3 separate regions of the Homo sapiens genome follow, and all the other regions are linked to region 3. The links come from fine-mapping of genetic effects on gene expression. A gene starts in region 3. Each other region holds a variant in brackets. All regions are shown on one strand. Distances are between the middles of the regions.

Region 1 (4,232 bases), 21 kb before region 3:
CAAGTGATCCAGCCTCCTTGACCACCCAACATGCTGGGATTACAGGCGTGAGTCTGGCCTATCAGACAGTTTTCATGTGACAAAAGGGTACTCCTGTATGATTCCATTATATAAAGTTCAAAAACAGGCAGAAACCAATCTATGATGAGAGGTCAGGACAGTGATTCCCTTGAAGGGGTTAATTTTGGAAAGGGGCAGGAGAGTAGCTTCTGGGATGCTATGGTTCTCTTAGGTCTGTGTTGATTTTGGGTAATTCATCAAGCTGTACACTTATGAACTATGCTTTTTTGCCTGTGTTAAAAAGGTTACTTTTTTAAAAAGAGCGGGGCTGGGTGCGGTGGCTAATGCCTGTAATTGCAGCACTTGGGGAGACTGAGGCGGGTGGATTACCTGAGGTCGGGAGTTCGAGACCAGCCTGGCTAACATGGTGAAACCCCCTGTCTACTAAAAATACAAAAATTAGCTAAGCGTGGTGGCAGGCGCCTATATTCCCAGCTACTCGGAAAGCTGAGGCAAGAGAATCCTTGAGCCTGGGAGGCGGAGGTTGCAGTGAGCCAAGATTGCGCCACTGCACTCCAGCCCGAGCGACAGAGTGAGACTCTGTCTCAAAAAAAAAAAAAAAAAAAAAAAAAAGCGGGCTAGCCCTTTATAATTTCGAGGGCAGCTTAAGAGCCCAGTGCCAACAGCTTTTAGTTCTTTTATGGGTTCATTTAAGAAATGCTAGAAGACTAATGCTATTGAACGTAGAGGGACCAATCTTATTTGAAAAGCACAGACATTAGTGACTCCAAATGGAAAGTAATTCGCAATGCTAATGTGGAGAAGTTTTAGGAAAACCAATGAATTTTGCTTATATTCATAAGAGCAACACATGATTTAAAAAAAAAAAACCTGTTTAAGGATGAAAGAGCTCTTTCAATGATTATAGAATTTCCAAGGGATAAGAAAAAATACTGGAAATCATGCAATGCAGAGTGTTCAGAACTTTGGGAGGAGATGAGATGATCTAGAAAAGATAGAGTGAGGCTGGGGGCAGTGATTCATGCCTATAATCCCAGCACTTTGGGAGGCTGAGGCAGGTGGATCACCTGAGGTCCAGAGTTCGAGACCAGCCTGGCCAACATGGTGAAACCCCATCTATACTAAAAACAAAAATTAGCCAGGCGTGGTGGTGAGCACCTGTAATCCCAACTACTTGGGAGACTGAGGCAGGAGAATCGCTTGAACCCGGAAGGCAGAGTTTGCAGTGATCCAAGATTGCACCACTGCACTCCAGCCTGGGCGACAGAGTGAGATTCCATCTCAAAAAAAAAAAAAAGAAAAGAAAAGAAAAGGCAGAGTGAGAACAGAAGACAGAGCCCTGGCCGGGCGCAGTGGCTCACGCCTGTAATCCCAGCACTTTGGGAGGCTGAGGCGGGTGGATCACGAAATCAAGAGATTGATACCATCCTGGCCAACATGGTGAAACCCCATCTCTACTAAAAACACAAAAATTAGCCAGATGTGGTGGCAGGCGCCTGTAGTCCCAGCTCCTCAGGAGGCTGAGGCAGGAGAATTGCTTAAACCCGGGAGTTGGAGGTTGCAGTGAGCCGAGATCACGCCACTGCACTCCAGCCTGGCAACAGAGCCAGACTCTGTCTCAGAAACAAAAAAAAAAG[A/G]CAGAGTCCTGTGGAATCAGACATTTAAAGATTGGGGAGAGAGGGAAACCAGAGGGCTGAGGAATTGCTGAAGTCTTCAAGAGGAAGGCTCAGCAGCAGAGATGACATGGTGAGACTGGTGCCAGGATGGAGGTCGCATCAGTGGACAAGGGTGTCAGCAAGTGAGTGGCAATGCCCCATGCTAGGAGCCCAGGTGACTGCCATCGGATGGGAGAGGCAGGTTCAAGAACGCTGGGCTCTTAGCTCCTCTACTCCCCATCTCTCGAGCCCAAGATTTCCACCTTGCTTGTTTCTGTCCTGTCAGAATTAGAAACATGTGATATAGTAGCTCTTAATTGGGGGGTGGGGGCATGGCTCCCTTCGAGAATCCTATAAAAACTATAAGCCCCTCTCATTAGAAAGTGCACATTAGCCCATGCCTGTCCTGTTGTCTGCGCAGTTCCCCTTGCTAGGACTCAAACTCGGTCTTCCTGCCATTACTGCCTCTAATCCTGCACTCATGCCCTCCCTCTCGTCCACAGAATCTTCTTTTCTTTTCTTTCTTTTTTTTTTTTTTTTGAGATGGGAGGCTTGCTCCTTTGCCCAGGCTGGAGGGCACTGGTGCAGTCTCGGCTCACTGCAACCTCCACCTCCCAGGTTCACATGATTCTCCTGCCTCAGCCTCCCAAATAGCTGAGATTAGGTGCCTGCCATTATGCCAGGCTAATTTTTGTATTTTTAGTAGAGACAGGTTTTTGCCATGTCGGCCAGGCTGGTCTCAAACTCCTGACCTCAGGTGATCCGCCCGCCTCGGCCTCCCAAAGTGCTGGGATTAGAGGCATGAGGCACCGCGCCAGGCCCTTTTTAAATTTTTTTTAAAGAGACGGTGTCTTGCCCTGTCACACAGGCTGGAGGATACAGTGGTGCAATCTTGGCTTACTGCAGCCTCGATCTCCCAGGTTAAGGGATCCTCTCACCTCGGCCTCCAAAGTAGCTGGGACTACAAGTGTGTGTCACCACGCCTGGCTAACTTAAATTTTTTTTTTGTAGAGATGGTGTCTCAGTATGTTGCCCTGGCTGGTCTCAAACTCCTGGGCTCAGCCCAATCCTCCTTCCTTGACCTCCTGAAATGCTGGGATTACAGGCGTGAGCCACTGTGCCTGGCCAATAAAGTCTTTGAGGATGAAGAATTTTAGCCAGAACCTGAAGGATATATCTGGCTCTATTTAGATTTGAAAATATATAATGTCTCAAGAAAAACAAAACAAAACACCTCGCTGAAGCAAACAGGGTTAGTGTGGCGATATATGGGTGATTTTTTTTCCTTTTCTCCTAAAGACTTTCATTCATGGGACTGTCCCTGATTCCCAGCCATCACGGGGAGGCTCTACCTTCAAGTGTTATCCAGAATCAGACCACCTCACCTCATCTACTGTGGCCTCCCTGGGATGGGCCTGGCCTCCTTCAGTCTGTTCTCACCACAAAGCCACCAGAAGGATCCTTTTATTTTTATTGATTGATTGATTGATACGGGGTCTGACTCTGTCAGCAGGCTGGAGTGCAATGGCACGATCTCACCTCACTGCAACCTCTGCTTCTTGGACTCAAGCAATCCTCCCACCACTGCCTCCTGAGTAGCTGGGACCACAGGTGCACACCACCACACCCAGTTAATCTTTTTGTATTTTTGGTAGAGATGGAGTTTCACCATTTTGCCCAGGATGGTCTCAAACTGTTAAGCTCAAGCAATCTACCCACCTCAGCTTCCCACAGTGCTGGGATTACAGATATGGGCCACCACGCCCAGCGCCTTTTAAAAGTGCAGTTGGATCATAGCATTTATCTGCTCATAACAATGGCTTTTGCTTCCCCGCTCACTCAAAAGAAATTCCTTCTTCACTGCAGAACTGCCCCTCCTACCACAGGATGTTTAGGGTTCCTGGCTGCAACCCCCAAAGGTCCTAATGGTGCTGGTCATGGGGGGATCCACACCATTGTGACAACGAAATATGCCCACATGATGCCCAAGGCTTCAGTCCTGGCCCCACCCTTCCACTGTGTCACTGTGCTGGGTTGGTTTTCTCATCTAAAACATGGTGATGGGGATAACAAACTTGAAAGAGTGTCATGCAAATGAGGTGTCCAGCATCGGGAGGTGTCCAGCATCAGGAATATTAATAAAGGGTCCCCAGTGATACCGGCCGAGGCATAAGCAAACTCCACTGCTCCTATTATCTGCACCTGAAGATTTACACCTTGCATATATGTGGATCCTTTTCCAATTTCTTCTGTATTAAACATTCTCTCCTGTATCAGAAAGTCAGGTTATGGGTTGGAGCTACAAATCTGCCCTTCGATCCATCCCCCCCATAGAGTGCTTTGCTGGCCGTAAGGATGGACTGCAGACAGCAGCTCCCTTTGAGGCCGCCCCCAGCTCCTCTCTTTCATAGCGGGCTGTGTGAATCAAGCTCCAGCACTTCTACTGTGTGATCCTAGATCAGTGTCTGAACCTCCCAGAGTTTCCTTCTCTGCAGATGGATGTGCCGATAGCCCCTGCTACACAGGGCTGAGCTGAAGGGGAAATGAGACAGTGAG
Region 2 (4,232 bases), 120 kb after region 3:
CCTGTCTGGGAAACAGAGCAAGATTCTATCTCAAAAAGAAAAAAGAAAAAAGAAAAGAATTTAAAAATCATTAGTCTTTATGTGGGCACAAATATATCACAAATCACTTTATTACTGGGCGCAGTGGCTCATGCCTGTAATCCCAACACTTTGGGAGGCCTAGATGGTTGGATCACCTGAGGTCAGGAGTTCAAGACCAGCCTGGCCAACATGATGAAGCCTCGTCTCTACTAAAAATACAAAAAATTAGCTGGGCGTGGTGGCGTGCACCTGTAATCCCAGCTATTCGGGAGGCTGAGGTGGGAGAATCACTTGAACCTGGGAGGCGGAGGTTGCAGTGAGCCAAGATCATGCCATTGCACTCCAGCTTGTGCAACAAGAGCAAAACTGCATCTCAAAAAAAAAATCACTTTATTGCACAGTGTATATGACTTCATAATTGTAAATATCACTTGGTAACCAGAATCTATTTTTCTCTAGTTCTTTATAGAATAAAGCAATACTTTAACCATTTTCAGCAGTACTTTGGGCTTCTCTTTGGTCTAGGGCTAAAGGGGTATGGGAGGACAATAAGAAATAGATCCTAGGGAAATAAAAACTTATATTGCAGCTTATCAGTATAATAAACACCATTCATAAAAACAAAAAAGTCATCTTTCTACAGGATATACATGAGATATATTTATCAGAGGCACTATGGGAGAAGTCTCCTGTTTGAAGAAAAAGAATTTCAGTTCACACTAGGCATATTCAGAATTTGTTGAAGTGTTTGTGCACATAACTATTGATGACTCTGAAAGACGGCAGTGAATAGAAACACACAGAGAGCTAAAGTAGGATAATAAAAATAGATAAATCAAACAAAGGTTTGTTGCCACCGTAACAAATTTTGAGCATTATGTGTCTGAATAAGCAATCAAAATAATCCTAAATACACACCACTGCACTCCAGCCTGGGAGACAGAGCAAGACTGTCTCAAACAAAGCAAAACAAATCTAAATTCATGATAATGCTTTTTTAAAGTGTGTGTGTGTTTTTTTTTTTTAAGAGACAAGGTTTCACTCTGTCACCCAAGCTGCAATGCAGTGGCACCATCTCTGCTCACTGCAACCTCTGCCTCTCAGGCTCAGGTGATGCTCCAGCCTCAGCCTCCCGAGCAGCTGGGAGGCACACATCGCCACGCCTGGCTAATTTTTTTATTTTTAGAAGAGACAGGGTTTTGCCATGTTGGCCAGGCTGGTCTCGAACTCCTGGCCTCAAGCGATCCTCCCACCTCAGCATCCCAAAGTGCTAGGATTACATGTGTGAGCCCCCTTGCCTAGCCAAAAAGCTTTTAAAAAAATCTTTTAAAGGCTGGGTGCAGTGGGCAGTGGCTCACTGTAATCTCAGCACTTTGGGAGGCCGAGGTGGGAGGATCACCTGAGGTCAGGAGTTCAAGACCAGCCTGGACAACATGGCAAAACCCTGTCTTTACTAAAAATAAAAAAACTAGCCAGGCATGGTGGTGTGCACCTGTAGTCCTAGCTTCTTGGGAGGCTAAGACAGGAGGATCACTTGAACCTGGGAGGCAGAGGTTGAAGTGAGCCAAGATCGTGCCACTGCACTCCAGCCTGGGTGACAGAACAAGACTCCGTCTCAAAAACAAAAAAAAAAAAGATTTTTTTAAAGGTTTTTATTTAGAAAATATTTTTACCAGAGAGAAGTTAAAAAACTAGTGCAATGAATTCATGCCACTGCATTTCAGCCTGGGAGACAGAGCAAGACATACTCATTTATCTAGGTTCATCAGTTGTTAAATTTGCCACATTTTTTCTCTCTCCTGTATGTGTGTGTGTGTGTGTGTGTGTGTGTG[G/TGTGG]AGGTGTACATACACCTTTGTTTCTCCACACATACACACATTCTCATATGTATATGTATGTGGTATGTGTATACGGTTTTTTGTTTGTTTTTCTTTTTCTTTTTTTTTTTTTGAGACGGAGTCTCGCTCTGTCACCCAGGCTAGAGTGCAGTGGCACGATCCCAGCTCACTGCAGTCTCCGCCTCCCAGGTTCAGGCGATTCTCCTGCCTCAGCCTCCTGAGTAGCTGGAATTACAGGCACCTACCACCACACCCGGCTAATTTTTTGTATTTTTAGTAGAGACGGGGTTTCACCGTGTTAGCCAGGATGGTTTCTATCTCTTGACCTCACGATCCACCTGCCCCGGCCTCCCAAAGTGCTGGGATTACAGGCATAAGCCACTGTGCCCAGCCTCTTTTTTTTTTAGATGGAGTTTCACTCTTGTTTCCCAGGCTGGAGTGCAATGGTGCGATCTCAGCTCACTGCAACCTCCACCTCCTGGGTTCAAGCAATTCTCCTGCCTCAGCCTCCCGAGTAGCTAGGATTACAGGCACCTGCCAACCACCCCTGGCTAATTTTTTTTGTATTTTTAGTAGAGACAGGGTTTCACCACGTTGGCCAGGCTGGTCTCGAACTCCCGACCTCAGGTGTTCCACCCACCTTGGCCTCCCAAAGTCCTGGGATTACAGGCATGACCCACCGCACTCAGTCGTGTTTGTTTGTTTTTTGAGACAGAGTCTTGCTCTGTCACTCAGGCTGGAGTGCAGCAGCACCATCTCAGCTCACTGCAACCTCTGCCTCCTGGGTTCAAGCAATTCTCCTGCCTCAGCCTCCCGAGTAGCTGGGATTACAGGCGCCTGCCACCATGGCCGGCTAATTTTTGTATTTTTAGTAGAGACGGGGTTTCTTCATGTTGGCCAGGCTGGTCTCGAACTCCTGACCTCAGGTGATTCGCCCACCTCAGCCTCCCAAAGTGCTGGGATTACAGGTGTGAGCCACTACGCCCAGCCTGTATATGTATTTTTTGGTGAACCATTTGAGAAGTTTCTTCTGAACCACTGAAAATTATTCACAGACATCATGACACTTCACCTCTTAATACTTCAGCATATCTCTTCTAAGAATAATGATGTTCTTCTACATAGCCACAATATAATTATCACATTCAGAAATTCTAACATTGGCATAATAATGTTATCTAATATACAGTTGTATTCAAGTGTCTCCAGTTGCCCCAATAATGTCCTTTATAGTTGTTGGGGGTTTTTTTGTTTTGCATTCAATTCAGGATCAATTGAAGAACATGCACTGCGTGTAATTGTCATGTCTCTTTAGTCTCCTTTAATCAGAACAGCTCTTCAACCTTTGTTAGACTTTTATGACACCGACATTTTTGTAGAACACAGACCAACTGTTTTGCAATGTCCCTCAATTTGAAGTTGAATTTTTTCTTCATTACTTAAAATGTTAAGCATTTTGACAGGAAAACTACATAAGCAATATTATGGCCTTCTCAGTATATCATATCAGGAGGCACATGATGGCAGTTTGTCCCATTATTAGTGATGTTAATTCTGATCATATGATTAAGATGATATTCACATGATGTCTCCATTGTAAAAGAAAATTACAAAAATTCTCTTTTATATTTAATTAGTAATTTGTGGTGTGATAATTTGAGACTGTGTAAATATCTTGCTCTGCAATAAGCTTTCATGCATTTATATTAGCATCCATTGAAGATTCTTGCCTAAATTAATTAGAGTAAATTAATTATTACTCTGATGGTTGCAATACAAAGTGCTATTACTTTAAAACAGAAGCAATGCATCATATGGTAGCAGATTAAATGTATCATTGACAGATATATTAAAAGATATTTGATATGCTGGAGTAAATTCTGTAAATTACATTGAAATGAATGTGTCTCTCTTTAAGCATTTTCCAAATTTACCCTTAACAATTTTGCTTCATCTTTCGCAGTTTGATATCTATCTCTCACTTTTCAAGACTCTTTTTTTTTTTTTTTTTTTTTGTGATGGAGTCTCGCTCTGTCACTCAGGCTGAAGTGCAATGGCGCGATCTCGGCTCACTGCAAGCTCCGCCTCCCAGGTTGATGCCATTCTGTCACCTCGGCCTCCCTAGTAGCTTGGGACTATAGGCGCCCGCCACCACACCCGGCTAATTTTGTTTTTGTGTTTTAGTAGAGACGGGGTTTCACCGTGTTAGCCAGGATGGTCTCGATCTCCTGACCTCGTGATCCATCTGCCTCAGCCTCCCAAAGTGCTGGGATTACAGGCATGAGCCACCGCGTCTGGCCTCAAGACCCTTTTATAAGTATTTTCTACTTAGTTACAAGAGATTCCTGTGAAAAATATTAACTACTCAAATGTTATTAA
Region 3 (4,232 bases):
GCACCACTGCTTTCTAGCCTGGGTGACAGAACAAGACCCCATCTCAAAGAAAAAAAAAATAGAAAAGAAAGAAAGAGATCTGGAAGGATACACCAAACTGTTCATAGTGGTTAAACCTGAAAAAGGGAATAGGATGACTGACTTGAATGAACTTGTCATTTTATAGGTTAAAAAAAGGTCAAATTGTGACAATTTCATATGGTACAATATAAAATTATATTAAATATACTCGAGATTTAATGAATTATTACAATGAGAATATATTCATGTATTACTTATGAACAAAATAAACAAAACACAGTTAAGAAGCAGCCCCCAGCATGCCTAAAATCTAGAGACATTTGAAGAAGGAGAAATAAGTCAAGTCCCCACTGATGCTAACTGCACTGGGCCTGAGCACATGGGCTGGACACAACAAGTTTAGGGGCCTGGCTCTCCCCTTCAGTTGCCTGCTAGACCTTGGCCCAGCTGCTTTACTTCTCGGGCTTTAACTGGGCACCTTACTCATGACCGCACTAATTCTCATAACACTACAGCTGGGAGCTGTCATCCATGTATTACAGATGAGGAAGGGTCTGGATTAGCTACCTTTTAAGTCAGATCTAATAATCCACAAACAGCTCAGCTGAGATCCTGGGATTCTGGGGCATCCGCGTGCACTTGAGATACAAGCTGTCCCACTGGCCCATGGCAACCTTCTTTCTAGTGAAACTCCCAGGGCGAGCGTGCTCCGCACACAGGAAGTGAAGGGGGAGCACCTGGCTTCCAATGATCACTCTGCGGCTCACCCACAGTGGGACCCCAGCATTTATCCCCCTTGGACTTCGGCTTCTTTCTTTGCACTGAGGAATAATAATAGTACCTGGCTCACAAGATGTTATAGTGTTTTAGTGTTTATAGGAAGCTGTGCACTTGATCCTCACAACGACCCTGGGAAGAGGATCGAGTAAGTAGAGCCTTCCCAGTCCACAGATACTGATACTAATCACTAATCATTGTGTAAAGGTTTTCCGTTTGCAACAGGCCATAAAATATATTATCTTACTTTAATTCTAAGAAAACAAGGGCGGAATCTCTGGTTTTCATCGGATTCTCAAAGATATACGTGTCCCCCAAGGAGTTCAGAGGTAGCCATGTTACGCAGATGCACGGCCCCCAGGGCTGTCGGACTCAAGTAACAGCTGTCAACAAACGTTCACACGCACGATCTCATGCAATCATCTTCACGGCGACCTACGGGGAGGAATTACCGCCCCAATTCACAACCGCGGAGACACACAGAGGAGGGCGGCCACCGCCCGGGGTCGCCCGGCCTCCGTCCCCTTCCCCAGGCCCTCCTGAAGCCTCTCTCCAGGCGAGGCCCGGACGTCCTACTCAGCTCGGGCCCCCGAGTGAACCCAGGCAGCGCTGGCCGGCGACGCCGGACTCGGAGACGTACCTGACGCGTCCCAGAAGCCGGGGTCCAAGCGCTCCCCGAACCCCCAGCAAGGACTCTGTAGCCCAGAGTTACCTTGACCCACCCGCCTCCTGCCGCCTGCCCGCCACGCGCATGCGCTGCCCCGCCCGGCCTCTACCACCGAGGAAAGGGGTAACCGGCGCGGGGGTTCCCAGCGCCAGCCTGCGCCAATCCCCAGAAACTCCGTGAATCACCTCGGGATAGCAAACGGATTATACAAAGGCAGTGTCTTCTGGGGTCCTTTTCATGCCTCTAGGACCAGGACCTGCATTCACCCTCTCCACTGACACATTGGTCTGGGCCCCCGGCCCGGCTGTCACCATAGAAACGGCATCTCGCGGACAACGCGGCGGCTCACGAAGGTTCCATTGTTATGCTAAACGGGAAAGTGGAGACCGCGCCGGCGTTGCCTAGAGAACGCCTGGACTCAGAGTAGCAAAATGGGCCTCTCCCCAACTCCCCTCCTCATCCCCCAGCACAAGGCAAAGGGCACCCCTTGCTGTGAGTTTGGGGGCACCGGCTGTCGGGGGCCGACCCAGAACTTTGCGGGGTCCCCTGAGGGACCCGTGGCGGGACCGGCCCCGGGTTCGTCAAATTCCGCCGATGCTTTCAGGTAAGACGGACGGACAGACGCACCATGACCCACCTCTGGCAGCCTGCCCCCTCCCCGTGCCGTTATGGCGGCTTCTACAAGCAAGGGAAGCTGAGGCCCAGGGACTACTTAAAGGTTGCATTGTGAGGAAGGGACAGAGAACTACTGGAGAATCAACTCCAGATCTCCTAGAGTCCTAAAAGCGTGTGTTATTGGTTCCGTCTGATAAGTGCAGAAACTTAGGCCGTTCAAGGAGTTTACCGGCTGCCTAGTGGGTGTATCAGGGCATCCAGTGAGGGGCAGGACCCAGGGGTCTTTGACTCCAAGCGCAGTTCTCTTCCAACTACACCACCCTGCATTAAAAGAGGGGAGACTTCCATGTCCTAGAACTAAAATCTTCACAATCTGGCTTAGCATTGTGCAATAGAAACATAAAGCAGGCCACATATGTGATTTGGAATTTTCTAGTAGCCACATTTTTTAAAAAGTAAAAAAGAAAGCCAAGTGAAATTAATTTGAGTAATGTTTTAAACTCCATATGTCCAAAACATTACTATTTCAAGATATAATCAGTATTTCTAAATTTGCACTGCTTCCATTTAAAAATTTAATTTTTTTTTTTTTTAAGACAGAGTCTCACTCTGTTGCCCAGGCTGGGATTGCAGTGGCATGATCTCGGCCTCCCGGGTTCAAGCGATTCTGCTGTGTTCACCTCCCAAGTAGCTGGAATTACAGGCACCCACCACCATGCCCGGCTAATTTTTTGTATTTTTAGTAGAGATGGCGTTTCACCATGTTGGCCAGGCTGGTCTCGAACTCCTGACCTCAGGTGATCTGCTTGACTCGGCCTCCCAAAGTGCTGGTATTACAGGTGCGGGCCACTGCGCCTGGCCAAAATTTGAATTAATTAAAATTAAAATTTTACTCTTGGCTGTTCTATCTATGGAGTAGCCATTCTTTTATTGCTTTACTTTAAAAAAATTTTACTTTTTTTTTTTTTCGAGACAGAGTCTCGCTCTGTCGCCCAGGCTGGAGTGCAGTGGCATGATCTTGGCTCACTGCAACCTCCGACTCCTGGGTTCACGCCATTCTCCTGCCTCCGCCTCCCAAGTAGCTGGGACTACAGGCGCCCGCCACCATGCCAGGCTAATTTTTTTTTTGGTATTTATTTATTTATTTATTTATTTATTTTAGATGGAGTCTCGCACTGTCGCCTAGGCTGGAGTGTGCAGTGGTACAATCTCAGCTCACTGCAAGCTCCGCCTCCTGGGTTCATGCCATTGTCCTGCCTCAGCCTCTCGAATAGCTGGGATTACAGGCGCCCGCCACCAAGCCCAGCTAATTTTTTTTTTTTTTTTTTTTTTTGGTATTTTTAGTAGAGATGGGGTTTCACCATGTTAGCCAGGGTGGTCTCGATCTCCTGACCTCATGATCCGCCTGCCTCGGCCTCCCAAAGTGCTGGGATTACAGGCGTGAGCCACCGCGCCCAGCCTTTTGTTTATTTTTTTGAGACAGGGTCTCATTCTGTCACCCAGGCTGGAGTGCAGTGACATCATCCCCACCTCCCAAAGTATTGGGATTACAGGTATGAGCCACTGCATTCAGCCTTAAAATTTTACTTATTCAGTCACATTAACCAAATTCCAAGGACTTAATTGTCACATGTAGCTAGTGCTATTTTGATGGCCAGCACAGTCTGGGCACTTCCTACCTTTCCAGCCTCACTTCCCGCTGCTTGGATGGTACATTTTGGATGGCATATTATTTCCGCTCCCCATTTTTTCTTTTTTTTTGAGACCGAGTTTTGCTCTTGTTGCCCAGGCTGGAGTGCAGTGGCGCGATCCGGCTCACTGCAAGCTCCGCCTCCTGGGTTCAAGCAATTCTCCTGCCTCAGCCTCCAGAGTAGCTGGGACAACAGGCGCCTGCCATCACACCCGGCTAGTTTTTTGTATTTTTAGTGGAGACGGGGTTTCACCGTGTTAGCCAGGATGGTCTGGATCTCCTGACCTCGTCATCCGCCTGCCTCGGCCTCCTAAAGTGGTGGGATTACAGGTGTGAGCCACCGCGCCCGGCCCTGCTCCCCTTTATCTAATTAACTTGTGCTCCTCCTTTAGCACCTTGATCTCCTTGTATGGTCAAAACACACTATTATGTCATCTTACAGTGTTGTTCCCTTTGAAGTAG

Direction of the effects. Positions count from the first base shown, and alleles are read on the strand shown. Sizes are in standard deviations (SD) of each study's normalised expression.
As copies of A replace G in region 1, the expression in fibroblasts of the gene that starts at base 1,551 in region 3 goes up (moderate effect, 0.60 SD a copy in GTEx).
For the expression in prefrontal cortex of the gene that starts at base 1,551 in region 3, G is the high allele of the variant in region 2 and TGTGG is the other (moderate effect, 0.70 SD a copy in ROSMAP).

What was found. PIP is the estimated chance that this variant, and not a neighbour inherited with it, causes the effect. A credible set is the group of variants that fine-mapping cannot tell apart.
Region 1: its variant is the best candidate, but not a certain one, in a credible set for the expression of CBY1 in fibroblasts (GTEx, PIP 0.85).
Region 2: its variant is the best candidate, but not a certain one, in a credible set for the expression of CBY1 in prefrontal cortex (ROSMAP, PIP 0.54).

The regions. Positions count from the first base shown.
Region 1 is chr22:38,675,233-38,679,464 of GRCh38, reverse strand. It overlaps TOMM22-DT (TOMM22 divergent transcript), which reads left to right. Exons shown (of 2, transcript XR_007068097.1): 2 at 2,976-3,949. Among named protein-coding and RNA genes, the nearest start is that of TOMM22-DT, 4.5 kb to the left of the region's middle. The variant A/G (reference allele first, on the strand shown) is at 1,659.
Region 2 is chr22:38,533,032-38,537,263 of GRCh38, reverse strand. All of the region lies in intron 12 of DMC1 (DNA meiotic recombinase 1), which reads left to right. Among named protein-coding and RNA genes, the nearest start is that of DDX17, 29 kb to the right of the region's middle. The variant G/TGTGG (reference allele first, on the strand shown) is at 1,854.
Region 3 is chr22:38,653,957-38,658,188 of GRCh38, reverse strand. It overlaps CBY1 (chibby 1, beta catenin antagonist), which reads right to left and starts at 1,551. Exons shown (of 5, transcript NM_015373.4): 1 at 1,439-1,551. It overlaps FAM227A (family with sequence similarity 227 member A), which reads left to right and starts at 1,797. Exons shown (of 17, transcript NM_001013647.2): 1 at 1,797-2,069.